Homo sapiens: one gene and its partners. The protein of the gene in region 1 purifies or fractionates together with the protein of each later gene. This does not show direct contact. Each region holds a gene or a part of one and is shown on either strand. Other genes may lie near its edges. The genes, in order: BTBD8, TAF8, BAZ2A, LYSMD2, IMPACT, EPS15L1 and RBM26.

What was found.
Region 2: the proteins of BTBD8 (region 1) and TAF8 purify together in Homo sapiens (affinity purification with mass spectrometry; one large-scale study listed by BioGRID and IntAct). This does not show direct contact.
Region 3: the proteins of BTBD8 (region 1) and BAZ2A purify together in Homo sapiens (affinity purification with mass spectrometry; one large-scale study listed by BioGRID and IntAct). This does not show direct contact.
Region 4: the proteins of BTBD8 (region 1) and LYSMD2 purify together in Homo sapiens (affinity purification with mass spectrometry; one large-scale study listed by BioGRID and IntAct). This does not show direct contact.
Region 5: the proteins of BTBD8 (region 1) and IMPACT purify together in Homo sapiens (affinity purification with mass spectrometry; one large-scale study listed by BioGRID and IntAct). This does not show direct contact.
Region 6: the proteins of BTBD8 (region 1) and EPS15L1 purify together in Homo sapiens (affinity purification with mass spectrometry; one large-scale study listed by BioGRID and IntAct). This does not show direct contact.
Region 7: the proteins of BTBD8 (region 1) and RBM26 purify together in Homo sapiens (affinity purification with mass spectrometry; one large-scale study listed by BioGRID and IntAct). This does not show direct contact.

The regions. Positions count from the first base shown.
Region 1 is NC_000001.11:92,086,845-92,090,344, forward strand, and holds part of BTBD8 (BTB/POZ domain-containing protein 8), read left to right. Parts: intron 1-1,853; coding exon 1,854-2,051; intron 2,052-3,500. UniProt on the Homo sapiens protein: Involved in clathrin-mediated endocytosis at the synapse. Plays a role in neuronal development and in synaptic vesicle recycling in mature neurons, a process required for normal synaptic transmission.
Region 2 is NC_000006.12:42,071,024-42,074,523, forward strand, and holds part of TAF8 (transcription initiation factor TFIID subunit 8), read left to right. Parts: intron 1-323; coding exon of another isoform or gene 324-445; intron 446-3,500. UniProt on the Homo sapiens protein: The TFIID basal transcription factor complex plays a major role in the initiation of RNA polymerase II (Pol II)-dependent transcription.
Region 3 is NC_000012.12:56,595,096-56,599,326, reverse strand, and holds the end of BAZ2A (bromodomain adjacent to zinc finger domain protein 2A), read left to right. Parts: coding exon 1-198; intron 199-315; coding exon 316-459; intron 460-543; coding exon 544-709; 3' UTR 710-3,731; downstream 3,732-4,231. UniProt on the Homo sapiens protein: Regulatory subunit of the ATP-dependent NoRC-1 and NoRC-5 ISWI chromatin remodeling complexes, which form ordered nucleosome arrays on chromatin and facilitate access to DNA during DNA-templated processes such as DNA replication, transcription, and repair.
Region 4 is NC_000015.10:51,731,156-51,734,655, reverse strand, and holds part of LYSMD2 (lysM and putative peptidoglycan-binding domain-containing protein 2), read left to right. Parts: intron 1-2,795; exon of another isoform or gene 2,796-3,500.
Region 5 is NC_000018.10:24,450,670-24,454,031, forward strand, and holds the end of IMPACT (protein IMPACT), read left to right. Parts: intron 1-109; coding exon 110-178; 3' UTR 179-2,862; downstream 2,863-3,362. UniProt on the Homo sapiens protein: Translational regulator that ensures constant high levels of translation upon a variety of stress conditions, such as amino acid starvation, UV-C irradiation, proteasome inhibitor treatment and glucose deprivation.
Region 6 is NC_000019.10:16,398,971-16,402,470, reverse strand, and holds part of EPS15L1 (epidermal growth factor receptor substrate 15-like 1), read left to right. Parts: coding exon 1-150; coding exon of another isoform or gene 151-165; exon of another isoform or gene 166-1,882; intron 1,883-3,500.
Region 7 is NC_000013.11:79,357,756-79,361,255, reverse strand, and holds part of RBM26 (RNA-binding protein 26), read left to right. Parts: intron 1-1,569; coding exon 1,570-1,681; intron 1,682-2,822; coding exon 2,823-2,982; intron 2,983-3,500. UniProt on the Homo sapiens protein: May be involved in the turnover of nuclear polyadenylated (pA+) RNA.

The DNA of each region.
Region 1 (3,500 bases):
GGACTTCCCTGCCTCTGGAACTGTGAACCAATAAATGTCTGTTCATTATAAATTACCTATCCTGTGGTATTCTGTTATAGCAGCACAAATGGACTAAGATAGGTGAATACAGTAGTGGGCAAAGATATGAGATGGAAAGAAGCTGGGCCTTGGCATCATTGAGACTTCTCCAGTCTGTCCTTCCTCTGGACTTTACTATTCGATGGGCCAATAAACTCCTTAATGTTTAAGCCAGTCTAAGTCAGATTTTCAGATTTGTAACATAACAAAATATACTTGAAACTGATAAAAATGGTTCTATCAAATAAAAAACACTGTATTTTCACATTAACAATTTTATACACACTTTTTTTTTTCCATTTAGCAAGTACTCATGAGCATCTGTTAGCAACAAGGTGGGTTCCCTCCTGATGGTTGTATGGCTACCAGCTGCAGTGCTTCCTTATTCACTTGAGGGGTGGGATGGGGGGAAGGAGGGTGGGAGGAAAGAACAAATTGAGTGTTTGTAGAGTTTCTATTTCAATTAAAGTTTGAGAGTCCAACACATTTTTGTGTAACTTTAAAAATTACTTATGAAAATAATTTATTGAAAATATTGACCAAACTAAGATGCATCTATTTGGCCATTATTTTCAAGGTTCTGAAAGCTTTTATGCTCTGAAGCATTTGTTTTGTCTAGGGTAAAATAGGATCATTTAATAAGAAGATACTGAACTCTTGCTGTATACTGAAGATACAGTTTTTGTCCGTGGGGAGTTCATTGTCTAGTGGGGAGAAAGACATGTAAAAATAATAATGATGCAATGACAGAAATGCTATAATAGAGGTATGTACTGAATGTGATGGGATTAGAGGAAGGAGCCATTAACTTGGTCCTGGGGGAGTATGAATGTCATTGGCTGCTTTCCAAGCTTTCACTGTAATGGGTATCTTTATCAGTTACTTGTACCTCCTGTAGTGTACTGGTATTATTGCCAGTTTTATATATCCTGTAATACAGAAGTCCTCTGAGAATGCATACCTTGCTGATGATATTGCTATAGTGATATGAAGTTTTATTTAATATTTAGAGAGTAAAATAGTTACTGCAAAGAGGCAAAAGATTATATTATGACATTTTCTATTATGTTGATTTCTATTCTTCTATCACTCACGTATACATGTAATCAGTGGGCTTTACAAGAACTATATCTGTACATTAGCAAAGGGATTTGAAAGGATCACGAATCCATCATTTTAATGATAGATTAGAGCATAATTCTATTTGTGGGAGTGGGAGACTGGAAAAGAGAGTAAATGTCACATTTTTGACAGCCACACCTGGATTTCAGACTTGTTAATTAACATTAGCCAGAACTAAGTACCAGTTTCTAACCTGAATTTTCTACTGATATGTGTGGTTTGTTGCTGTCATTAACTATTAACTTTTTTTTTGCTTCAATTTAAGTAAGATTTTAAAAAATTGATTATTTTAAATAATTAATGATCATGTCAACTTTGCATTTTAAAAATAAATCTAAAGAAGATAGTATATCTAAAGGAAAATCAACATAAGTAGCAGAAAATATTTTTTTATTATCAGAAGGAATTCATAAGTAAATATTTTGAAACAGTAGTCTTACTCTTTTAGTGAAATTGTCTTTGTTTTCACTATGAATTTTAGAAAATTAGGCTCTAAGCCAATGTTAAACAATGTTTTTTGGAATGAACTGAGAACAAACTCATTTTTGTATTAACTTTATGTTGCCTCTGTATTTTTTAGCTTATGTGTTATTTTAAACCTACTTTATAAAAATATGTATACGTTTTTTAGTATCACTAATTAAACTATGATTCCTTTTTATTCCTTATAGGCTTCTAAGGGAAGAATTCCATACAGATGTTACCTTCTCTGTGGGTTGTACTTTGTTCAAAGCACACAAAGCAGTCCTTTTAGCAAGAGTTCCTGACTTCTATTTTCATACTATTGGACAGACATCAAATAGTTTAACAAATCAGGAGCCTATTGCTGTGGAGAATGTTGAAGCTTTAGAATTTAGAACGTTTTTACAGTAAGTGCTTTCTTTATCCATGTAAGTCTAATATGTAATTGCTTATTTTTAACATGTATGTTTTTATTTAATATATTTTCATATGTATTTTGTAACCTGATAAGAAAAATCCATTCACTTAAATTCCAAATTATCTTAGTAATTAGTGTTGACAGAGGCTAAGTGTTAATATTAGTACTAGTAGTACTAATATTAGCTTAGTACTGGTAGTACAATATTAGCTTAGTACTGGTAGAGGCTAAGCATTAACCTAAGACTGATCCTGAGAAAAGGGAAATGGTGTGCTCTCCAGTAATTTAAATGAATTATTCTATTCCAGGGTTTCTCAGTAGTGGCACTACTGGCATTTCAGGTTGTATAATTATTTGTTGTGGGGACAATGCTGTGCATTTTAGGATGTTTAGTTGTGACCGAAATGTCTCCAGACATTGCCAGATGTCCTCTGGAGGTCCTAATTGCCCCCTCTTGAGAACCGTTGCTACGTACTCACTCTGTATTGTTGGCATGTGAAACTTTAAAGTATGTATATTTATAAAAATATAACGTCATAACTGTTTTTATTCTCATGGCTTATGTCTTAGTCCATTTGGGCTGCTATAACAAAATACCTTAGACTGGGTAATTGGTGAACAATAGAAATGTATTGATCACAGTTCGGGAGCCTGGGAAGTCCAAGATCAAGGTGCCAGCAGATTCAGTGCCTGGTGAGGGTTAGTTCCTTGAAGATAGCGTCTTCTCTGTGCCCTCACATGGCAAAAGAGATAAACAAACTTTCTTGGGTCTTTTTTATAAGAGCACTAATCTCATTCATGAGGATGGAGCCCTCATGACCTAATCATCTCTCAAATGTCCCACCTCTTCATACCACCACATTGGGGATTAAGTTTCATCATATGAATTTTGGGGTTGGGGGGACACAAACATTCAGACCATAGTAACTTGTATTTGGTCAAATTGTTTTTTGAGAACAGAACATCAATTTGACTTTTTAGTAATTTTGGGGACTCATGTTTGAACTCAGAATTGTCATCAGCTAAATAATGGGAGAAACTAGTTTAAATTAATCTTCATTCTGTACTTTATTTCTTTCTGTTGTTGCATATTATTTCATTGTATGGCTATTCCATATTTTGTTAATCCATTCGTTGCCATTTAAATTGTTTCTATTAATACTTTTTGGCTATGATGAATAATGCTGCTATAATACGTATATACAAATTTTTCTGTGAACCTGTGTTATTTTTCTTGAGTATATACCTAGGAGTGGGATTGCTGGATTATATATATGGTAACTATGTTTAACCTTTTGAGAAACTGCTGAACTGTTTTCCAAACTGGCTATAATATTTTACATTCCCACTAGCAATGTACAAGGGCTTCAGTTTCTCCACATCCTCGGCACATTTGTTGTTATCTTCTGTATTTTTTTATTATTACCCTCCTTGTGGA
Region 2 (3,500 bases), on another chromosome or scaffold:
AGCCCCCTCTTGTTCCTGCACCCTTGGAGAAAGTGCCAAGTACAATCGCAGAACCGCCAGAAGCTGGAATGCCCTTAAGGCTAATAGGGTTATATAGTCAGGTTGCCATATTCAACCATCCTTTAAAATCAGCACTAGTTTGGATGCCTTAGTGGCTGTAGTTGGACTGAGCATCCCTTATGTTCTCTAAGATGTGATACCCCAAATGGCAGCCAGCCACCCTGGGTTGCTAGTGGAATATGCCTGTGTCATCTCTATTTGCTGAAGGTCTTATTTGCCTGGACATACTTTTTTTTTTTTTTTTTTTTTTTTTTTTTTTTTAGATAGAGTCTCGCTCCGTCACCCAGGCTGGAGTGCAGTGGCAAGATCTTGGCTCACTGCAACCTCCGCCTCCTGGGTTCAAGCGATTCTCCAGCCTCAGCCTCCTGAGTAGCTGGAATTACAGGTACGCACCACCACGCCCGGCTAATTTTTGTATTTTTAGTAGAGACGGGGTTTCACCGTGTTGGTCACGCTGGTCTTGAACTCCTGACCTCATGATCCACCCTCCTTGGCCTCCCAAAGTGCTGGGATTACAGGCGTGAGCCACCACACCCGGCCTGGATATACTTTTTTTTTTTTTAAATATTGAATTATTCCTTTCAGAATTAGGGCTGGGAGACCATGGCTTTAAATAAAGCAGAGGAAATTGTTATTGTACGCTTCTGTTAATTTGGGCTGAGATATGGTGATTGGGTCATGGACTAAGTTGAGGTTCACCTTATGAGAAAGAGGAATCATGTAAACAAACGTCATCATACCTTTGTAAGTACAATATAGTTAAAGGGCTTGGACATGCATTCACTGACGGTCCCGTAGTGATGTGAGGTCATGGTGGTAATTGAACCTAAAGAGTGTCAGCAACCGCCTGAGGACTCTTGAATACCATGAGGCCAAGCCAGGGTTGCAGACAGCAGGAGTGTAGGAAGGCCTGAGTCTTAGAGTCAGACTTGCCTAGCTTCAAATCCAGGCTGTGCTGCTTGCCACATGTGTGACCGTGATTGTGTTACTTTACGCCTTAGTCTATTTTCTTGTAAGTAGAAACAGAAACACCTACCTCAAGGGACAGGGGGAGCGTGAGACAGAGCTGGTATCTATCAGGTGCCTGGCATGTGGCAGCTCCTAGCACACACTGCTCCCTCCCCTGCTGTTTTAGGCTATCTAACCATATGCCCTTCTGTGAAAAATAAAATCAAATGACTCCAAGACAAAGATTCTAGTGACAATTTACTACAGTCAGTTGGACCTAATGTTATTTTGTTAGACTAGGAAATACAATCATATGTTTCAAAATGCAGAGTGTGCAAAAAGATGTATGGTGACAATCCCTCCCATCCTGTTCCCTGTTACCCACTTTCCCTCCCACAGAGCAACTGTCTCACCAGCCTCTTATGTAGCCTTCTAGAGACATTTTTTTAAATTGTTATTTTGAACTGAAACAGCAGATCACAAACTGTTCTCTTCTTGCTTTTTTCCTGGCTGTATCTTGGCGGTCATTCCACATCTGTAAGGGAGGAGGCGCATCGTTCCTCACAGCTACTTTATCTTCCATTGTATGGATGTAACCATTTAATTTATCTAGTCCCCCATGAACACTTAGGTTGTTTTCTGTCTTTACCATTTACAGACATTGTTATAGCAAAGTAAATAACTGGTTTTTTTGTTTGTTTTTTTTTTTGAGACCGAGTCTCGCTCTGTCACCCAGGCTGCAGTGCAGTGGCGTGATCTCGGCTCGCTGCAAGCTCCGCCTCCCGGGTTCATGCCATTCTCCTGCCTCAGCCTCCCCAGCAGCTAGGACTACAGGCGCCCGCCACCACGCCCGGCTAATTTTTTTGTATTTTTAGTAGAGGCGGGGTTTCACCGTGTTAGCCAGGATGGTCTCGATCTCCCGACCTCGTGATCCGCCCGCCTCAGCCTCCCAAAGTGCTGGGATTACAGGCGTGAGCCACCACGCCCAGCCAATAACAGGTATTTTAAATTATTATTTTATCTCTTGATGAGAGTGCACCTCTCAAGGTCTGTTGTTAGGCAGTACATTATTTAACCTGGTTCTAGTTTCTCCATGTACTTGAACATAAAGGAGCTATTCATTTTAAATTCATGTATAATTTAAATTCATGTATAATAGATTCTTTTCTCACACATTTGAACCAGCTGCTCTCTGCAGCCAACCCAGATATCTAAGCTTTTACTCTTTTATGAAAAATATACCAGTCACTCACTCAACCAGTGTTTATTTAGCACCTAGTATGTGCCAGATATTTTTTCTGGCTGCTTGGGATAAAGCAGTGAGAAAAACAAAGAAAACCTCTGCCTTTTAGGAGCAGAGTTTGGCTGTGGGAGAATGATACCAAACACAATATATGACTAAATCGTTGCATAGTATATCAGAAATGAAAGTGCTGTGTGGGGGAAAAACAGTAGGGGAAGATCCAGGGTGAGGAGGAGTCTTCAGTTTTTAAGTGGGGTGCTCGGAGTAGGCATTACTGAGAAGGGGATATCTGAGCAGGAGCTTGAAATGGGTGAGGGAGTGAGCCATGTGGATATCTGGGGAAGAGTGTTCTGGCAGAGGGAATGGGCAGTGCAAAGGCCCTGTGGAATAGTGAGTGGCTTGTGGGAGGGAGGGTCAGATTGGGTAGGGCCTTGTAGGCTATTTTAAGAGCTGGCTTTTAACTAAGAGAGATGGGAGTTGTGGGAGGGCGTGGAGCAGAGGAGGGATGTTTCTGAGCTTCTTAAAGCACCACTCTGATGGCTCGGTAAGAACGGACTAGAGAGATCAGTCAGGAAGCTGTCGCTATAGCCTAGGCGAGAGGCAGTGGTGGGCCCAAGTAGAGTGGTTGCCACAGAGGTGGTGGAAGTGGTCAGTGCCTGCCTGAATTTTGAAGGTAAGTCCAAGAGGCTGTGCTAACAGATTGGGTATGGGATGTCAGTGAAGGAAAAGGAGTGTGCCAGGTGTGGTGGTGCATGCCCATAGTTGCAGTCACTTGGGAAGCTGAGGCAGGAAGATTGAGCCCAGGAATTTGAGTCCAGTTTTGGGCAACATAGTGAGACCCTGTTTAAAAATAAAAGAAAGAAAACAAGCAAGAATGACCACAGAGTTTGTGACTCGAGCCATTAGAAGGATGGAGTTGCCATCACTTGTGATGGGAGGGACTGAGAAGCGCCGTTTACACCACAGGGGAAGGTCCCCAATTCAGACTTAGGTGCCTGAAGTCTGAACTGCCTACCTGATACCCCAGTGGAAATGCTGAGTGAGCAGCTGGCTGCATGAGCCTGGAAGTCGGGAGAGGTTAGGGCTGGCATTGTACTCCAGGGAGCTGTTGGCGTAGAGATGGCACTGAGAGCTGGGAGACTGGATGCAGTCACCACAGAGGGTGTAGGCCTTGCTAGAGCTCACAGGCAATTCAGGGAGCTCCTGACGGACCATTCTGCTCCCACTTTTTTTTACAAATCTCTGGGTC
Region 3 (4,231 bases), on another chromosome or scaffold:
TTTCCCAAAGCGTGGCCAGAAGCGGAAAAGTGGTTATTCGCTGAACTTCTCAGAGGGTGATGGCCGCCGACGCCGGGTACTGTTGAGGGGCCGAGAAAGCCCAGCAGCAGGGCCTCGGTACTCGGAAGAAGGGCTCTCCCCCTCCAAGCGGCGGCGACTCTCTATGCGGAACCACCACAGTGATCTCACATTTTGCGAGTGAGTTGAGTGAATCCTGGGGGGACAGTTGGCTCTACCTCTGCCAGAGGAAAGGGCTGGGAGGGGTCAGTATATTTGCTTCCTGAGATGGAGCCATCATTGTCCCTCTAATGATAGGATTATCCTGATGGAGATGGAGTCCCATGATGCAGCCTGGCCTTTCCTAGAGCCTGTGAACCCACGTTTGGTGAGTGGGTACCGGCGCATCATCAAAAATCCTATGGATTTTTCCACCATGCGGGAGCGGCTGCTCAGGGGAGGGTAAGTAGATGTGGGTGAACCGCCCGGTCTTTGCTACTGCTGCAACTCCTACCCAGCTCACAGTTTTGCCCCTGCCCTGTCCAGGTACACCAGCTCAGAGGAGTTTGCGGCTGATGCCCTCCTGGTATTTGACAACTGCCAGACTTTCAACGAGGATGACTCTGAAGTAGGCAAGGCTGGGCACATCATGCGCCGCTTCTTCGAGAGCCGCTGGGAGGAGTTTTATCAGGGAAAACAGGCCAATCTGTGAGGCAAGGGAGGTGGGGAGTCACCTTGTGGCATCTCCCCCCACCTTCCAAACAAAAACCTGCCATTTTCACCTGCTGATGCTGCCCTGGGTCCAGACTCAAGTCAGATACAACCCTGATTTTTGACCTTGCCCTTGGCAGTGCCCCACATCCTCTTATTCCTACATCCCTTTCTCCCTTCCCTCCTCTTGCTCCTCAAGTAAGAGGTGCAGAGATGAGGTCCTTCTGGACTAAAAGCCAAAAAAAGAAAGAAAAAAATAATTTTTCTTTTCTGTTTTATTTGCTAATTAAAAATGGGGAGGGGGAAAGTCGTCCCTACTTCCTCCTCCCTGCTTCCTCTCCTCCCCTGTACGTGCCCCAGCATTCTGGGGTTATTTAACAATAGCAATAGTTCTAGTGAATGTGTGAAACCAAGAAACACTCTGTACTGTGTGCGGACCCGCAGTGACGGCCAGTAAAGTGGACTTAACTCCCAAGTGTGTCGCGCCGGACACCGGGCCCTGGACATGCTGCTTCCATGTTCAGTCCCTTCCCTGCTTCTCGCTGTCTTTCTTTTCCCACCTCCCACCCCCCAGTTTTCAGATTTTCTCTCATCCAATAATGTAAAACTATCGTGTACGGGTTCCTCCCTCCTTTTCTCTTCTCCCAAATCTTTTCCCTTCAAAGGAAAAAAAAATGTTCAGAGGTCCCTGTCTTCTGTCCCCATCTTCCTGCCGATAGCTATCCCCTGTATGATGTTGGATGCTCCTCACATGCTGAGTTTCCAGCCTTTTCTGAAACTCAGTAGCTGGGGAGAGGGCAGGGAGGCTTCCTGGGCCTTCCAGCCTCCTTCCCCACCTCCTTCCCAAACCCTCTTGGGAACTCCTCAGGGACAACTACTGCTGAGTTTGGGTGCACCCTAAGATGGAGGCCAGGTAGCAATGGGGCCGGCCTCAGAGAGAGCGCTGTGTGTGTGTGTGTGTGTGTGTGTGTGTGTGTGTGTCGGCCTCAGAGCGCGCTGTGTGTGTGTGTGTGTGTGTCAGCCTCAGAGCGCGCGCTGTGTGTGTGTGTGTGTGTGCGTGCTTGTGACCCTGTATTGTTTGATAGGATCCATTCAGTTTCCCCAAGTACCTGTTTTCATTCCCATTTTTCCCATTGTTTAAAACCATCACTTTTTTGTCTTTGGGAAACCACAGGAACAATTTCTCTGGAGACAAGGCTGTGTCTCTCTCCTGGTCATTTTTGTTCCAGCCTCTTCAGACTGTGCAATCTTTCAGCAGGAACTCCCTCTCTTCTCGGTAGCTTTGAATCTTAAGCTTCTACGGGAGAGTGGTAGAACTGGATCATTTCCTAATCCCATTTAGTTGTGCTTTTCTTCATTTACTTCATACCCCAGGACCCCTTCCCCAGCAGCAGAGACCCTGGAGCACAGGAGAGTAGGGAGGAGGGGTTCTGGGTCCATCACTGCCCTACATGTGACTATGTCCAAGTTAAGCCCCCAACACGAGAGGAAAGCTGCTGACTCCCAGCTATAGCCATGGGCACTTGGCCCCCTGCTTTTCCTGCTCAGCAGAGCCCCTCCCTTCAGAGATTACGGGTACTTGCACTGGGGAGGTGGCTGCTGGCTGGCCCAAGCAGAGAGCTGAGGCATCCAAGAAATGTTCCATTGGGGGGTGGGGGTGCCAGGTGAGGTGGAGCATTCCTTGTATTCTGGCAGCACTGAAGAGCCACTGAAGGGGGTAGGGGCAGTGTAGGTCCTGGGGCAGCCCCTTTATTCCTTTATGCCCCTTCTCCCTCATAGCCTATTTCTAAAGTCGCCTTTTCTGTCAGATAAACCTCAAAACTTTTAATTTTATTTGAGATTTTTTTTTGCTTTTAAGAGGTGGATTGAAGAATATTTGAATTGACTTTATATTATGCATAAATATTTATATTTTATCTAAATAACTGCGCTGTAACAAACTTTGTGTTAGACAGTTGAAACTGTTAGAGTTGGGGGCTCTGCTTTTTCCCCCTGGCAATTTTCCCCTGGTATAAGATGTGCTAGATTAATTTCATTGTGAGGTGGATGGGGGAGTGAAATTGTGAGGTGGATGGGGGAGTGAAATCTCCATGGTTCCTGCTTTGTGTTCCTCTCCCAGCTCCATCTCTTTCCCTAGGGACCAGGCACTCATATGGCGGGGTGGGGTCCTAGCCTCAGTTTGAAGAAGTGGGGGCTGGAGCGGGGTTGGGGGTGGTAGGGATAGGGCATGATCAAAGGGGCCATTTCTTGCTTTTCTTTCCTCATCTTCACTGCCCCCTTGAGCTAGGTGGATTTTCTCTTCATGACAAGAGTATTTGGTAGGGAAAGCAGGTTTAAAATAAAAAGACAACCCACCCCCTGCCCTTTTGCTTCCCTCCCATCAGTCTGGTTGACAGGAAGAAACCACACCATCAACACCAACAAGTTTCTGTGTTCCTTTTACAGCAAAAGGGACTTTTTATATAACCAAATGTGGTGTTTTAGTGACTTTTTGATAATGTACAGTTTTTTGTGAATTTAAATTTATTTCTTTCTATATTTTTAGGACCAATCTCATTTTTAATAAGGTTAAAAAGAAAAAAAAAGTCTAGCGAAAAAACTCCTGTTTTTGCCATGTGATGTTCCACAAGTGCAGCTGTAGAAAAGTGCTTGTCAGTTGTTGAATAAAAAAAACCACATTTGATAGAGATTCAAAAGACTCTGTGTATTCATCTTCCCTTCTACACACCTGAGGGGGAGACGGCGTTGGGATAGGTATGACTGGCTTAAGAGACCACAGGCAAGGGAACAACAGGGGCTCCTGTTCCATACCCTCTGTGTGGATGGAAAGGGTCATTAGTGCTCCTGCCTAAATGTCTGGCTGAGTTGCTGGAGCAAAGGGGGATTCAGTGCATCCAGGTCCTGCCTTGTGAGATGTGGCCCCAGCTTCCTAAGCTGCCACCTCTGTGTTCCTGTCATAGCAAATATGGGACCATCACCAGCTTACCACTTCCCACTCACGGATAAGACACCAAGACGTAGACTTTTGTGTTTTATTTAAAAAAAAAAAAGTGTGAAGTAAGACAAAATGGACCTCTACCAAGTTGTAGGGAAGGACAAGGAAAAGACCAGGGGTAGAAAAGGAGTGTAAGTTTTAGAATGGTGGCATTGGCATAGATGTGGGAAGAGTATAAAACTAGAAGAAGTCTCCAGATAAAAATATGCAAAATATGTCTGTTTAAGTATAAACATTTTCTGTCCACATGCAAAGAGGTGTTTACCCACCCAAAAAGGGTATATGTTGGAGTGGGGACTTCACTCGCGCTGGATATGTATTACCCTCCAGCCTGGAAACTTTGTCTTGGTGCAACCCCCTAAACTGTATGTTAAGGTAGAAAAGGAACATTCGCTTCCAGCCTTATAAAAATGACAGACTCCCTCTTTGGTGTTTGGTTACCTTCACAGCTATACGCCAGCCACTGAGCAGCTTTCTTGTCCTCTTAAGTTCTAAACTCTGCTCCTATGCTGGTGTCCTCCAACCATT
Region 4 (3,500 bases), on another chromosome or scaffold:
AAACAGTTGACCTTAACATACCATGTCTGTCAATCTTGCACAGATGAGCAGAAACTCTCAGGAAAGCCTGTCTCTCCATGGCAACTCCTCAGCCACCCAGCTGGGTGTCAGGCAGGACTTCAGTCCTTTGGTGGAAGACTGATTAAGAGCCAGTCGTAGTCTAGGTACAAGGAAGTTCCCAGAACAGAGACTCCGACAAGGGGGTGAAGATGGAGACCTGGTTGCCAGCCCTGGATTACAAGGGTAACAAGCTGGGAGCCATTTTCTGAAGTGGTGCTGAAGGGCTGGCAGCAGGGCATATCTCAGGATGTGAGAATAGATCCATGTTCCTCAAATTGGCCTGGGCAGGACAGGAATACTCTGGGGCAAACTAAAAATAAAGGATCCTAGCTGACATTGGATCTATGGGATTGGAATACCCAGAAAAGGAGTCTAGGAGTCTCTGTTTTGTTTGTTTGTTTGTTTTTGTTTTTGAGACAAAGGCTCACTTTGTCACCCTGGCTGGAGTGCAGTGGCCTGATCTTGGCTCACTGCAACCTCCGCCTCCCGGGTTCAAGCTATTCTCCTGCCTCAGCCTCTCGAGTAGCTGGGACTTTAAGCACACGCCACCATGCCCGGCTAATTTTTGTATTTTTAGTAGAGATAGGGTTTCACTATGTTGGCCGGGCTGGTGTTCAACTCCTGACCTCATGATCTGCCCACCTTGGCCTCCCAAAGTGTTGGGATTACAAGCGTGAGCCACCGCATCTGGCCAGAGTCTCCATTTTTAACAAGCATGGCTGCTTTGCTTGTTCCCAAAGCACTGTTCTTCCTTGGGGTTCTTGCACTTGCTGTTCCATCTGTCTTTCTCTAATAGCTGGATACAGGGCTAGCTTCATGGGCATGTGACCTGCGCAGTCACAGAAGACCCCATGCTTAGAAGGGCCTCACACTTGGTTTAATGCTCTACTGTCATCTCTTGAAATTTTTAATAGTTTGTGAACAAGGGCCTCACATTTTCATATTTTTTTACTGGCCCTGGGCGAATGATGGAGCTGATTCTGGCTGAGTGATTTGTTCCCTCATTGCCTTCAAGTCTTTGCTTAAATATCTCATTCTTAAGGCCTTTTCTGCACACTCTATGTCAAATTGTAGCCTTTCTCCCTAGTCCCCCAGCGCTCCTCCCCAACTTCCCTGCCATGTTTTCCTAACAGTATTTATCATTCATCCAATTTTTTTTCTTTCCCTCAGAGCTACCTTTCTGGTGATACAATAGTGAGTAAATAAAAATCCATGTCCTCATAGAGCTTATATTTTAGTTAGTGGAGACAGTAAGTAGAAAAAGAAAATGTATCTTATATTGATAAGCATAATGAAAAAAAAACCAAGCAGGAGAGGGAGTTGGGGAGGGCTCGTGGAGATGGCTGGAATTTAAAATGGTGTGGCCAGGGAAGACCTTGCTGAGAAGGAGGTAAGGGAGGGAGCTGTGCAGATATCTGGTGAAGAACATTCCAGGCAGAAGGAATAACCAGTGGTGCAAAGGCCTTGAGGTGAGAACATAATTGGCACCTTCCAGGAGTACTGTGGCTGGTGCTTAGAATGCAGTGGGGTATAGTTGGACTAGATCACTTTGGACCTTGAAGACCATTGTAAGGGCTTTGTCTTTTTCTCTGAGTTGGGATGCATTTAAGGGGTTTGAGCCGAAGAGTGACATAATCTGACTTGTGTATTAAAACGATCACTCTGGCTGCTGCTTTAAAAATAGTTTGTAGGGAAGCTAGTACCAAGCAAGGAAACCAGATAAGATGGTGGCTTTTGCAGTAATGCAGGTGGGAGAGGATAGCAGCTGGGACCAAAGCAGTAGAGAAGGAAGGAGGTGGTGAGATGTGGCTGGGGTCTGGATGATTTGCTGATATGCTGTAAATGTTCTGCTTGTTTGTTTACTGTTTAGTTTGAATATCTCTCCCCTAGAGATGGGCCTGGGCATCCTGGGGATGGGAAAGAAGAATCTGGAGTTTCAAGAAGCTGGCTAGGCCTGACACCTGATGGACCCAAGTTCTTCTGCTAGTGACTTAGGAAAGATCATTATGACTCTTTCCTACCATCACCTTTTTAGCCATTAATAGCCATTAAAAACTGGCATTCATTATTTTCTTAACCAACTTCTATTGAGTCTGGTTGGTTTGAGGCCTTGGGCTAGATGCTGGGGCTAGAAGGTAATACATGTTGTTCTCTTTTTATTCATGGTGAGTTTTTCAGCTACTGCTTTCTAGTAGTTTCTAGCTACTTGAGAAGCCAGAGAATTTGTTTCATTGATGTTTGTATCTTCTGTGGCTAGCCTGGAGCCTGGCATGTTGTGAGTTCTCCGCATACATGTGGACTTCAGCCACAGGAAAGCTTGACTGGTATGAAGTAGCTAGCCATGGAGCTGAGCGGACCCTGGAAGTCAGGATCCAGGGCAGGGGCTGAGTGAAGAGGTGTGGCCTGCTGAAGACTTGAACTGCAAGATTTGGTTTGAGGCTCATTCTCAAATCTGTAAAAGACTGCTGCCCTTGCTGGTGCTCAGTGTTCATCTCCTCCCCTCCACCAGCAGTGGGTCTTTACATGGAATGACATATAAGTTTAGGCTTGAGCAGCTCTACCAGAGGAAGAGGCATTTGAGGAAGTGGGTCTGGGAAACTGAAACTACTTGGGGTGGGTTGAGTAACCGTTAAATATAGTTCAAACCTCAGACGTAAACTTGCTTGGCCTGGCATTCCCCTGGGTGTGTTTATCTCCACTGAGACATTAAGATTCCTTCCCTAACCCTGTATTCTAGATTTAGCTATTGCTTTTTCAGTGATCCTGGCTCCTCTCAGTTAGAGTCAAGCCTCTGGAGGAAATTGACCAGCTCTAGGCTGCCACCGTGAATTTTTGTGCAGAAACCCTGGAGAAACCTCCAGAGAGCCATATAGAAACTGAAAGTGGAAAGGAGGCAGCCAGGTGGACCTATGATTTGCATAAACTTTTTCTTTTTTCTCTTTGCTTCCTCCAGGCAGCTTGCCTGTCTTTTTCCCTCTCCAGAGGCCACCTCACCCCGCAGTACCCTCAGTTACTTCCTAGCCAGTTTTATTCCCAGGATTTTCTCTTCCTCTGCCAATTAGCTGCTAAGCCAAGTTGTTGCTTAACATTTCCGCTAACGAAAGTTACCTTGCTGAGAAAAGGTGAAATGATTGTCATTTTTGGGGGAATAAACATTGTGATTTAGAAACTCAGGTGCATGTAAATCTTTAGTGTTCATAACTTTAACCCCTGCTGCTGGTGGAGATTGCTGACCCTTGCTAGTTAAAGAGAAGATAACTATAAATAGAGCCACCAAAAGTGAGAGGTATGGCAAAGTAGCCTTTAGTCATTCGGGGTGTTTGTAGATTCTCATTATTTTTTTAAACACCTTTATTGAGGTTGTACACCACAAAATTCACCCATCTTAAGTGTACGATTCGATGACTTTAAGTAAATTTACAGAGTTGTGAGGCCATTGT
Region 5 (3,362 bases), on another chromosome or scaffold:
TATGAATATATGTGGAATATATATGTGTAAATATATTCTAAGTGATTAGATTGAAGATTTCATCTTTATGTAAATGGAGAGATGCTGCACTGATTTGTGTCTTTTTCAGGAGGAGTCATCTAAGGCTTTGGGAAAGAACAAAAAAGTAAGAAAAGACAAGAAGAGGAATGAACATTAATACCTGAAACTATAGGAAAGGTTAATTTGCCTATAATTATATATACATTCCATAGTCATCAAGGAATATATTGTGCAGAGAGAGTATCCTTGACTGCTTAAGTCAGCCAGTTCAGCATGGATACCAACATTAGCTTTTCTTCTTGGTTATATCATCTGCCAAAAATAGAGAACTTATGATCTATTCATGTGTGTTTCAGGCTTATTTGGGAGAACTAATTTGAACTTAATCACCACTTCATCTAATTTTAGCAAGGTAACAGTTGCCCAGGGCAGTACCTGAATTAACTGTCCATTTCAGTACATGTCAAGTGCCTTTGTTAGGTGGAGAAGAAATGTCTCTAGAGGAATATAAATACCTGATTTCTTGTCATCGAGATTCTTGTACTGTTAAATGAATATTGCCTTTTACTGCTCTTTATGGCTTATTGGAATAGGAGCTCATTTAAGATTGATCTTGGAGAGTTTCTTCTTGTGATTTTAGTTCATAAGTATGTCACCTTTCATTTTATAGTGTTCATCATTGAGTAATGGATTAAGTGAAAATCCAGGAGTATCCATCTGCAGTTATGTGCTGAGGTGATAATTCATCCAACATATTTGTTAGCATAAATATTATGCTTCAGTTTCTGTTGCAAATTGGTGATTGTGAAATTACAGAAAGTGATTTTCTAGTCTGCTTTTTTTGTTTAATTCTTGTAATGTAAGCAATAAATATGGAGTGTCAGTAGTCTCCTTCCACCCCAGAAATGTGTTGGTGTAACATTCTCGTTTCTTTTAACAACCTGGAAGTACCTTTCTTGTGATCTTCACTGAGGAATTAGAACTATGATAGAAGTTAGGCTGTGGCAAATGGGACATTCGTAGAGTGGGATAGAGGTGGCAGAATGAACCTGGTGTAGGGCAGGAGTATGTTGTGTAGTTACATCAATTTGATGCATGCTTTCCATCTGCACTCCAGACGGCTTTCTCAGTTCCAAGATTTTGCAGAGAGAAGGAGCAAACCTTTTCATTGGAAAAACAGAAACAACCCTCCCCCCCATTTTTTCCCCTCTATTCATCAAACCTTTATGTATCTTTCATCTTCCAGTTACCTCTAGGCATTTAGATAGTGAAATTTACCTTTGAGATATAACAATAAGTGATTAACTGTTCACTTTCAGATGTAATGGCAAACAATTGTTAAAAGTTATTAACTGATCACAGATTTGCCTGGACTTCCCTTCCCAGGGAGGGAACAGAAGTTAGGAGGCAACTTTGGGATGGTGCTAGAGCATGGAAAGCACAGAGAATTGGACAAACAGGTCTTTTTCTCTTTTCTCTGATGTTTTACCTTTAAAAGATCCAACATCCTTACCGTTGGTATTTTTAGTAAGGTTATAGTAAATAGCTTTACACCAGGATGGATTCTGAAATATAAATTCTAAATTATATTTGTTATAACTATATTTTATGTTGTATGTTATCAGGAGCCATCAGAGAATGACCTTTTTGTGTTTGGAACACTTGGTTCCATGAAAAGTATGCTTTGTGTTTTAACTGTTAAAATAATTTAAAAATTAATTATTTTACATAATTAAAGAAGTTAAAAACTATTAACATTAAATAATTTCACAATTTCAACATGTCAAACCTATGAAGGGAGATAGGAAACAATGAGAAACTTACTTTTGCTCCTTTATACAGAATTATTAACTATATTTTACTAACTAAAAAACTCTAGTATTCTTTACCTAAAGTCAATTGGCTGGTAAGAGGGAGAGATGCAAAATTCTCCAGCTCTGAACTTGGAGCTACTTCACACTCTACTCTTAATGGAAACTTGAACTAATGATAGATAGTATTTTTTTCCTCTATTTAAAATTTTTGTCTTGATTAGGAGATTTTTCAGTTCTCCATATAATAATTTTCTACAATCAGATCTATGCTGTGGCATATTTTGCTTTATTTAAAAATTTTTTTTTAGAGATGAGTTCTTGCTCTGTCACCTAGGCTGGAGTGCAGTGGCATGATCATGGCTCACTGCAGCCTTGACCTTCCAGCCTGCCAAGTAGCTGGGATTACAGACAGGCATGTGCTATTACACCTGGCTAATTTTTAAAGTTTTTTTTGTAAAGATAGGGTCTTTCTATGTTGCCCAGGCTCGTCTTGAGCTCCTGGCCTCAATCGATCTTCCTGCCAAGGTTTTGGAATTACAGGTGTGAGCCACCATGCCTGGCCTGCTTTGACATATTTTATAGTGTGTTAATTACAAATAGTCTTCATATGCCAGAATATAAGAGCAAGTGTTATCTACTTTTTAGATGGGAATTGCAGAAGCTGCATCAAAAGTATGCTTTGAGGTATATATAGTGAAACAGAGCCTTTCTGAAGAGAATTATATCAAACTAATTACAACCAAGAAATAATAGTATGAAGCGGATGCTGTTTGGAGGACAGGAAAATTTATCGGGAAAATTACATAATCCCTCTGATTCCACTATCCAGAGATAGCCATTATTATTAATATTTGGTATGTACATCCTTATATTATTTTTTTCTTATGCATGATTTTGTATATATGGTTATTTTTCTTTCCATAAAAATGGTATTAAACTGTATATACTGTTTTGTAGCCTACATATTTCATATAGAAGTATATTGTTAACATTTTCCATGTCAATAAATATTCTTCTATGGCTTAAATGTCTTATGACTGCATTGTATTCTGTCTTCTCAGTATTATACTAACTAGTCCTCCACTTATTTCCAATTTTTAAGTTTTTTTCAACTTTTCACTGTTATAAACAACTGTGAAAACCTACATCATTTGCAGATTTTTGTATGTATCTTTGATTATTTCTTTAGGAAAAGCTCCTAGATATCGAATTTCTTGGTCAAGGTTTGTACATTCTAATAGCTTTTGATTAGTTGAGTCAGATTGTCATCCAGGAAAGTGTTATCAGTGATTGCTCCATTAATATTGTGTTGGAATATTTAATACCAGCCAAAGATGGGAAAAAATAGGCAGTTTGCTTGATAACTCCCAAGATCCTTTTTAAAAAAGTAAACTTTTTGGCCAGGCACAGTGTCTCACGTCTGTAATCCCAGCATTTTGGGTGGCTGAGGCAGGCGGATCACTTGAGGTCAGGAGGTTGAGACCAGCCTGACCAACATGGTCAAACCTGTCTCTACTAAAAATACAA
Region 6 (3,500 bases), on another chromosome or scaffold:
TCCCAGCTGCATGAAAGCCGCCAGGAGGCCCACAGGAGCCTGGAGCAGTATGACCAGGTGCTCGATGGAGCCCATGGTGCCAGCCTGACCGACCTGGCCAACCTGAGCGAAGGCGTCTCCCTGGCAGAGAGGGGCAGTTTTGGAGCCATGGTAAAGGTTGAATAAACGTATTACAGTATGGGGCTCTGGTCCCCTGGTGTGACAGCAGAACATCCCACCCGCCAGATCTGTTCATGGCCAACGTTGGTTCCAGCCAAGTGCAGGCGGCTGTCTGTTGTTTTTGCTGCCACTTTGCGCGTTCACACCAGGCCTTGCAGCCTGGCACAGGTGGCCATGCTGAATCCTGGCTTCCAGAACAAAGTCCAAGATAGGCCTGGATCCTTTCAGAACCTGTTTTGAATGCCCTCCATCTCTGCGGAAGTATTTACATTGGGCCAACCACCCAAGTTCAGAGGGCTTCTCAAACTTAACCAAAATTGGATCAGTTTCTGCTCATTGTGGAAACCCCACATTCTACTAATCAGGGGGCAGGGGACATCTGAGGGGCATGTGTCTATGTGTATGTGTGTTTCCACAAGGAACACCTTGAAAAGCAAATGTGTTGCTAAAGATGAGGAAGTAATGGCAAGCAGCGCCCCAGGGTGTTGCTCTTTCAAGTAAGAATTGGCCTCTCCTGAAATTTTGGTTATGTTTAAAAACCTCTGCACTTTACTCTGACCTCATGACCCTGGAGTTGTGATCAGGCCTGGGGCAGGGGACTGTCGGCCCCTTACATTTTTGAGAGCTCTTGAGCCCCTGATACCAAGACAGGTGTGACCTTTTCCTTAGGTGGTCACATCCCCCCTGTTCACACCAGAGTCTGCCCCTGCAGCCTCGAACCTGGGGACATGTAGTTTCCCATTTCGTCTTGGTGCTGTTCCGGGAGCGGATGGGCCGGGCCGCGCATGTCTGGATGTTTCCTTGGTGCTCTGCTGCCTCCAGCAGCTCTCTCCGTGCTGCCACCCTCTCTCCCAGGGCTCCTCCCTGGAGCCCTTCTGCTCCTGGGCCTCTGTACGTCATGGATTCCTCTTCCTCCCTGGAATAAGAGTGAGCGCTCGTGCTCTCTAAACACCACACTTGCCTCTTTATGTTCAATGCTTGATGTGTTTCTTTTCTCAGCAGCCAAGTCCTCAGTCCCAAGGATTTATGGGGAAGCACACGCGTCCCCTGGGCTGCTGGGAAGGCACTGCTGGCGAGCTCATCTGTCTCTTGTGTCTGGCCCCCGCTGGGTGCACCGCCTCCCTCTTTCCTCCCATACTCTCTTTTCTCGTGGACTCGTAATGAGGTGGTTTCCATAGCCGCCCCCGGGCCCGTCATCATCAGCTTTATCGTCTAAATTTAAACGATGAGCATTCATCCTTCATGAGTTACGAGAAGCCAGAACTCCTCGCTTTGCTCCCTGGCTGTTCTTGGCGTGTGTGTTTCCGTCTCACAACCCGGCTCCTACTTTCCCCATCTGGCATTGTCCCCTGGCACCGCTTTTGGCTTGTCCTGCTCAGTCTTCGTTCAGGGAACAGCTTCCTCTTAAATGTCCCTTTTGCAGGTTTTTAGAAACCGGTTTTCTTGGATAAAAGTTGGCAGTGAAGTGGCAGTTTGCAAGTGGCCAGTGATTCCCCCAACTCCAAAGACAGATTTTTACCTTTCTGGTTATTTTTGTTCATCTTTTGGGCAGGGCAAAGGTTACCTGAGACACAATTACTTTGGGAATGTAGATTAAGATACGTTACATGGAAACTTGCAACTGGCATCCGAAAGAAAAACTGTTTTTATCCTGTTGTACAAATACAGTTTTTAAAGCATTTTTCTGGCTTGTTTCTATTTCTTAATAAATACTTGGAAGAGAGATTTTTGTTTACTCCTGAACACTTCAAGACTGCTTCAGAGCCGAGAGAGAGGTGTCTTAGTTCTCCCTTGTGGGTCGAAGTTGGGGGTTTTAGGTCCCTGAGAATAGTGTATCCACAGTGGTACATCTGGAACTTCCTATGTTTGGACAGTTCTACTCAGGTTACTAAATTCCATGTGAAGCTCACGCAGTGTGACTTTATCTCAAAAGTCAGGGGTTTTTTTTTTTTTTTGTTTTTGTTTTTTTTTTTTTGAGACGGAGTCTCGCTCTGTCTCCCAGACTGGAGTGCAGTGGCACAATCTCAGCTCACTGCAACCTCTGCCTCCCGGGTCCAAGTGATTCTCCTGCCTCAGCCTCCCGAGTAGCAGAGATTACAGGCACGTGCCACCATGCCCAGCTAATTTTTGTATTTTTAGTAGAGACGAGGTTTCACAGTGTTGCCCAGGCTGGTCTTGAACTCCTGACCTCAGGCAATCTGCCCGCCTCGACCTCCCCAAATGCTGGGATTACAGGCGTGAGCCACCTCACCCGCCAAAGTCAGGGTTCTTAAAGCCATATTTATTTCTTGTCTATCATCTGATTATGAGAATATTGACCTCTTGCTCACCATCCAATCAACTTATGGAGAGAAGCTAATAAATCATCCCAGACTTAGGCCTTACTGAGGACAGATTAAGAAAGGTTGATTGATCTGTCACATCCAGACCCAGTGGCATGCTGGAGCCAGTTTTTATTGACTTTCCAGAACCGATTATTAAATAGGAACTGGCCGGGCACAATGGCTCACACCTGTAATCCCAGTCCTTTGGGAGGCTGAGGTGGGAGGATTGCTTGAGGCCAGCTGCGTGCCACTGCACTCCAGCCTGGGTGACACAGCGAGACTCAATCTCTAAAAAAAAAAAAAAAACCCCAAAAAGCAAAAAACAGGAACTTGTGAGCTAGTTGCTTGGAAACTTGAAATCAACCATGATGAGACTGTTTACACCACAGGAATTGGCAGAAGCTCTAAACCAGGGCTTTTTTCTGAGAGAACTGATTCCCAGCACACCCCTGCTGCCCAGCACTCCTCTAAAGGGCGGGAATGTCACAGAAGCTTCTTCAGCCCCCTTTCAGAGTTGCCGTGTGTATTTCCTAAGAAGGGTACAACTTCACACTGGTTGCTGAACTTGTTCAAGATATTACATCTCTGCCAAGGGCCGTGTCATTCATCCTGGCCCTTGTCTGCTGTACTCGTGTCCCCCAAGTTGGCAGATGGGTCTGTTCTCCTTAGTAGGTGGTCTGCAAGGGGTAGAGTTGATGGTATCTTTGTAACAGGGAAATCTCGTTTCCCACTCTGATTCTGTGCAATGGAATCAAAACCACTATTAGTTACCCTGACCTCCTGAATCCTGCTGGGGTCTCAGGCTTCCCCTTGGAAGGGGAAGGAGTGATTGTGGCTTCAGGCCAATGACTCCTGAGAAAGTGATTGCAGGCCTGACTGTCAGTGCAGGGGGCTTGCAGCCAGCATTCCCAGAACCTCAGTCTCTTCTCTGCCATTGTTCACTGTTACTTGGCAGTCTTCCAAGTGACGACTGAAAACACTGAAAAAAAAAAACCTTATAAATAAATGCCAATTAAA
Region 7 (3,500 bases), on another chromosome or scaffold:
TCTCTGTATGTATGGCATATGTGGGTAGTCATATATCAAATATGACTTGACTGGGATGATTGGGAAAATGGTAGTTTCATTAATAGAAATGTTTAAGAAAAATAAAAGATAGACTTAATATGAAAATAATTTGAACGTTCTGCATAGTGAGTTTTGAGATACCTGTAGGATTTCCAGAGAGAACAAAGAAGTTGAAAATTTAGAATTGAGTATATGCTCTCCTCCTGCAGGAGACCATAGCTGTGGCCATGAGAGATATTGTGCTGAAACAGATCTTCAGTTCTTTTGGTTAGTTAGGTGTTTAGAAATATGTAAAAATAGGATTTTAGACAAATCAATTTTGCCATCTATAAAAAAGGAGTTTTTAAGTTACATTTTTCTATGTGGATTAAGGTTTGCATGTTTTAAACTTTGGAGTCATTTGGGAATAACAGGTTAAATGTACTATGCTCATTACATGCCATGTAAGTAAATATAAAATGTTGAAAGTAACAGACTTTTACAGCTCTTTTACACTGTATTTTAGACTTGAATCTTTTCCTTTTTTAAAGCAAGTATGCTTTCATTACATTCATATTTTATGAGTCTATTCCATATTTAAAAGCAGCTCACTTCAATCATAACTCTAACCTTTCACTTCTCAAAGATTATTGGATTAGTGTAAAGTTTTGAATCTTTTAGATTGTGCATTTGATTTCAAAACTATGAACTTAAAGCCTCAAAGTGATTATTTTCTCATTTGTGCATTGATATATATATATATATTTGTGGTGAGGGTGATGGTAGATGGGAACAATGACTTGGGTTTTATCTACAAAGAAGTGACCTACAGAATCACATTTTAATTTGGCATGTGAGAATTGATTCTTTTTCATAGTTAATTGTGAAATGAATATGTTGAAATAAGTTTGAAAAAACCCTTAGATTACTGTATTTGAATGTACAGTAATTCCCCTTTGTCTGTGGGTGATATGTTCCAAGACTCCTCGTGTGTAAAACCACAGAGTACCAAACCCTACATATACTATGCTTTTTCCTATACAGTCACACCTGTGATAAAGTTTCACTTATAAATTAGACACAGTAAGAGCTAAACAACAATGTCTAATAATAAAATGAAATAATTATAACAATATACTATAATAAAAGTTATGTGAATGGTCCCTGTCTTTCTCTGTCAAATATCTTTTTGTATTTACCCTTCTTGGGATGATAGGGGATGATAAAATGCCTACATGATGAGATCAAGTGTTGGAGCAGGATGGTGTGAGATTTTATCACACTACTCAGAACTGCAGGCAGTTTAAAACTTAGGAATTGTTTACTATTTCTGTAGTTTTCCATAATTTTGGACTGTGGTTGACTAGAGATAACTGAAATCGTAAAAATGAAACTGGATAAGGGGGAGCTACTATACATTTATTTCTATTTCTTCTAAAAAAAAAATTATATATATATATATATATTTAGACAAAAGCCAGAAATTTTCCTGTATGAGGAAGGTATCTATGATAAATAGAAAATATTAACCTATGCTTATTTTTTTCATTTTCTTTTGTTTTAAAACAGAAAAGCCTCCCAATAAAAGCAGTATGAGGATAGTAGTGGACTCAGAATCAAGGAAAAGAACCATTGGTTCTGGAGAGCCTGGAGTTCCTACAAAGAAGACTTGGTTTGATAAGTAAGGTGGCCAGGAAAATTGAGGAGTATAATTGTGCATTGATTTTCAGGATCATTTCTGTATTATTATGACAATATGGTTTGGTTTCTTCCAAAAATGTTACTCTGTTCTGTAAGCAATCCCCAAGTGTGAGTTTTCTAAAAATTGGCAAGTTAGTTGTCTGATGTTAGAAAAGCATTTTCTTACAGAAATGGTGTGGTAGTTCAGGGCATAATTTTTTCCTCTTATCATTTACCCTCCTCCAAAAAACCCACTCTTTAACTTAGACCTGTTGAATACTAGCTATATACAGGATAGTCATGAGCCTCTCATCATTAGAGGAAGGAGGTATAGATCAGACCTGTCAAGAGACTTTCATATGTAGGCAGTTCCTGCTAGGTAGGAGCTAGAAAGGGCTTTTGTGGGGGTTGGAGAGGCTGTCTAGGCATTGAATGGTCAAGAAAGAGCTTCAGATAAAGGGGTAAGGAATCAGAATGTTAAGATATGTGTGAGGTGATTCATTTATAAATAAATCTGTGAAGAGAGACTAGGATCACTTTTAGAGCTTTAACATCTACTTAATAATGGATAGTTTCTAGTTGTTTGTGATTAATTCTGTGATTTAATGCAGAGTAACCTCTCTAGGCCACAGTTTTGTCCTTTCTTCAAGTGTCAAAATGTATTCTTTATAGTTCCAACAATTCTTTTTTTCTTTTTTTAAATAAAGCGGGAAAGAGGTTGAGACTGTCATCAAAGAAAATAAAATTTAAAATCAAATTTAAAACATAAAGTTTTAAGATAGGATATTTTTTAGTAAGCTGACTTTTACAGAATCAGAATAAAGGTTATATATGCAAATTGACTAAAAGAGGATATTGAGACTTTTCCTGATAGGAATGTTAAGTAGAGGTGGATCAGAAGTGGAAAGTAACAAATGATATGGCAGAACCCTTCTCAGTTGGCTTCCATGAAAGATACTAACAGTGTTCATTTGGAAACTTCATTGTTGGAAGAAAATTTAAATTTCCTTTATCAACCAGTAATTTCAGTTTGGGGGAAAATTGAACTTAATTGGATATCTATTTTGTTAAACTTTATTCCCTTGTATTTGGTTAGGGTCAGGATTTATAAATGTATTGACTAACTTGAATTTTGTTTGCAGACCAAATTTTAATAGAACAAACAGCCCAGGCTTTCAGAAGAAGGTTCAATTTGGAAATGAAAATACCAAGCTTGAACTTAGAAAAGTTCCTCCAGAATTAAATAATATCAGCAAACTTAATGAACATTTTAGTCGATTTGGAACCTTGGTTAACTTACAGGTAAGAGCCATGAAATGGTTTTGTTATCTCTTCTTTCTGTTTAGGGAACTTAATGTAATAAGAAAACTACCTTTATAAATAAATATTTTAAGGCTGGGCATGGTGGTTCACGCCTGTAATCCCAGCACTTTGGGAGGCCAAGGCGGGCGGATCACCTGAGGTGAGGAATTCGAGACTAGCCTGGCCAACCTGGTGAAACCCCATCTCTACTAAAAATACAAAAATTAGCTCGGTGTGGTGGCAGGCACCTGTAATCCCAGCTACTCGGGAGGTTGAGGCAGGAGAATTGCTTGAATCTGGGAGGCTAAGGTTGCAGCGAGCCGAGATTGCGCCACTGCACTCCAGCCTGGGTGACAAGAGCAAAACTCTGTCTCAAAAAAAAAAAAAAAAAATTGTTATTCTGAATTGGGAAAATTGGACATGAAATGGAACTCTACCTTTTAGGAAAAAATACAATTTTTAGTGTTTCAATTGATCATATTATCATAAACTTTTTACCTAATAAAGGTTGTCATAAA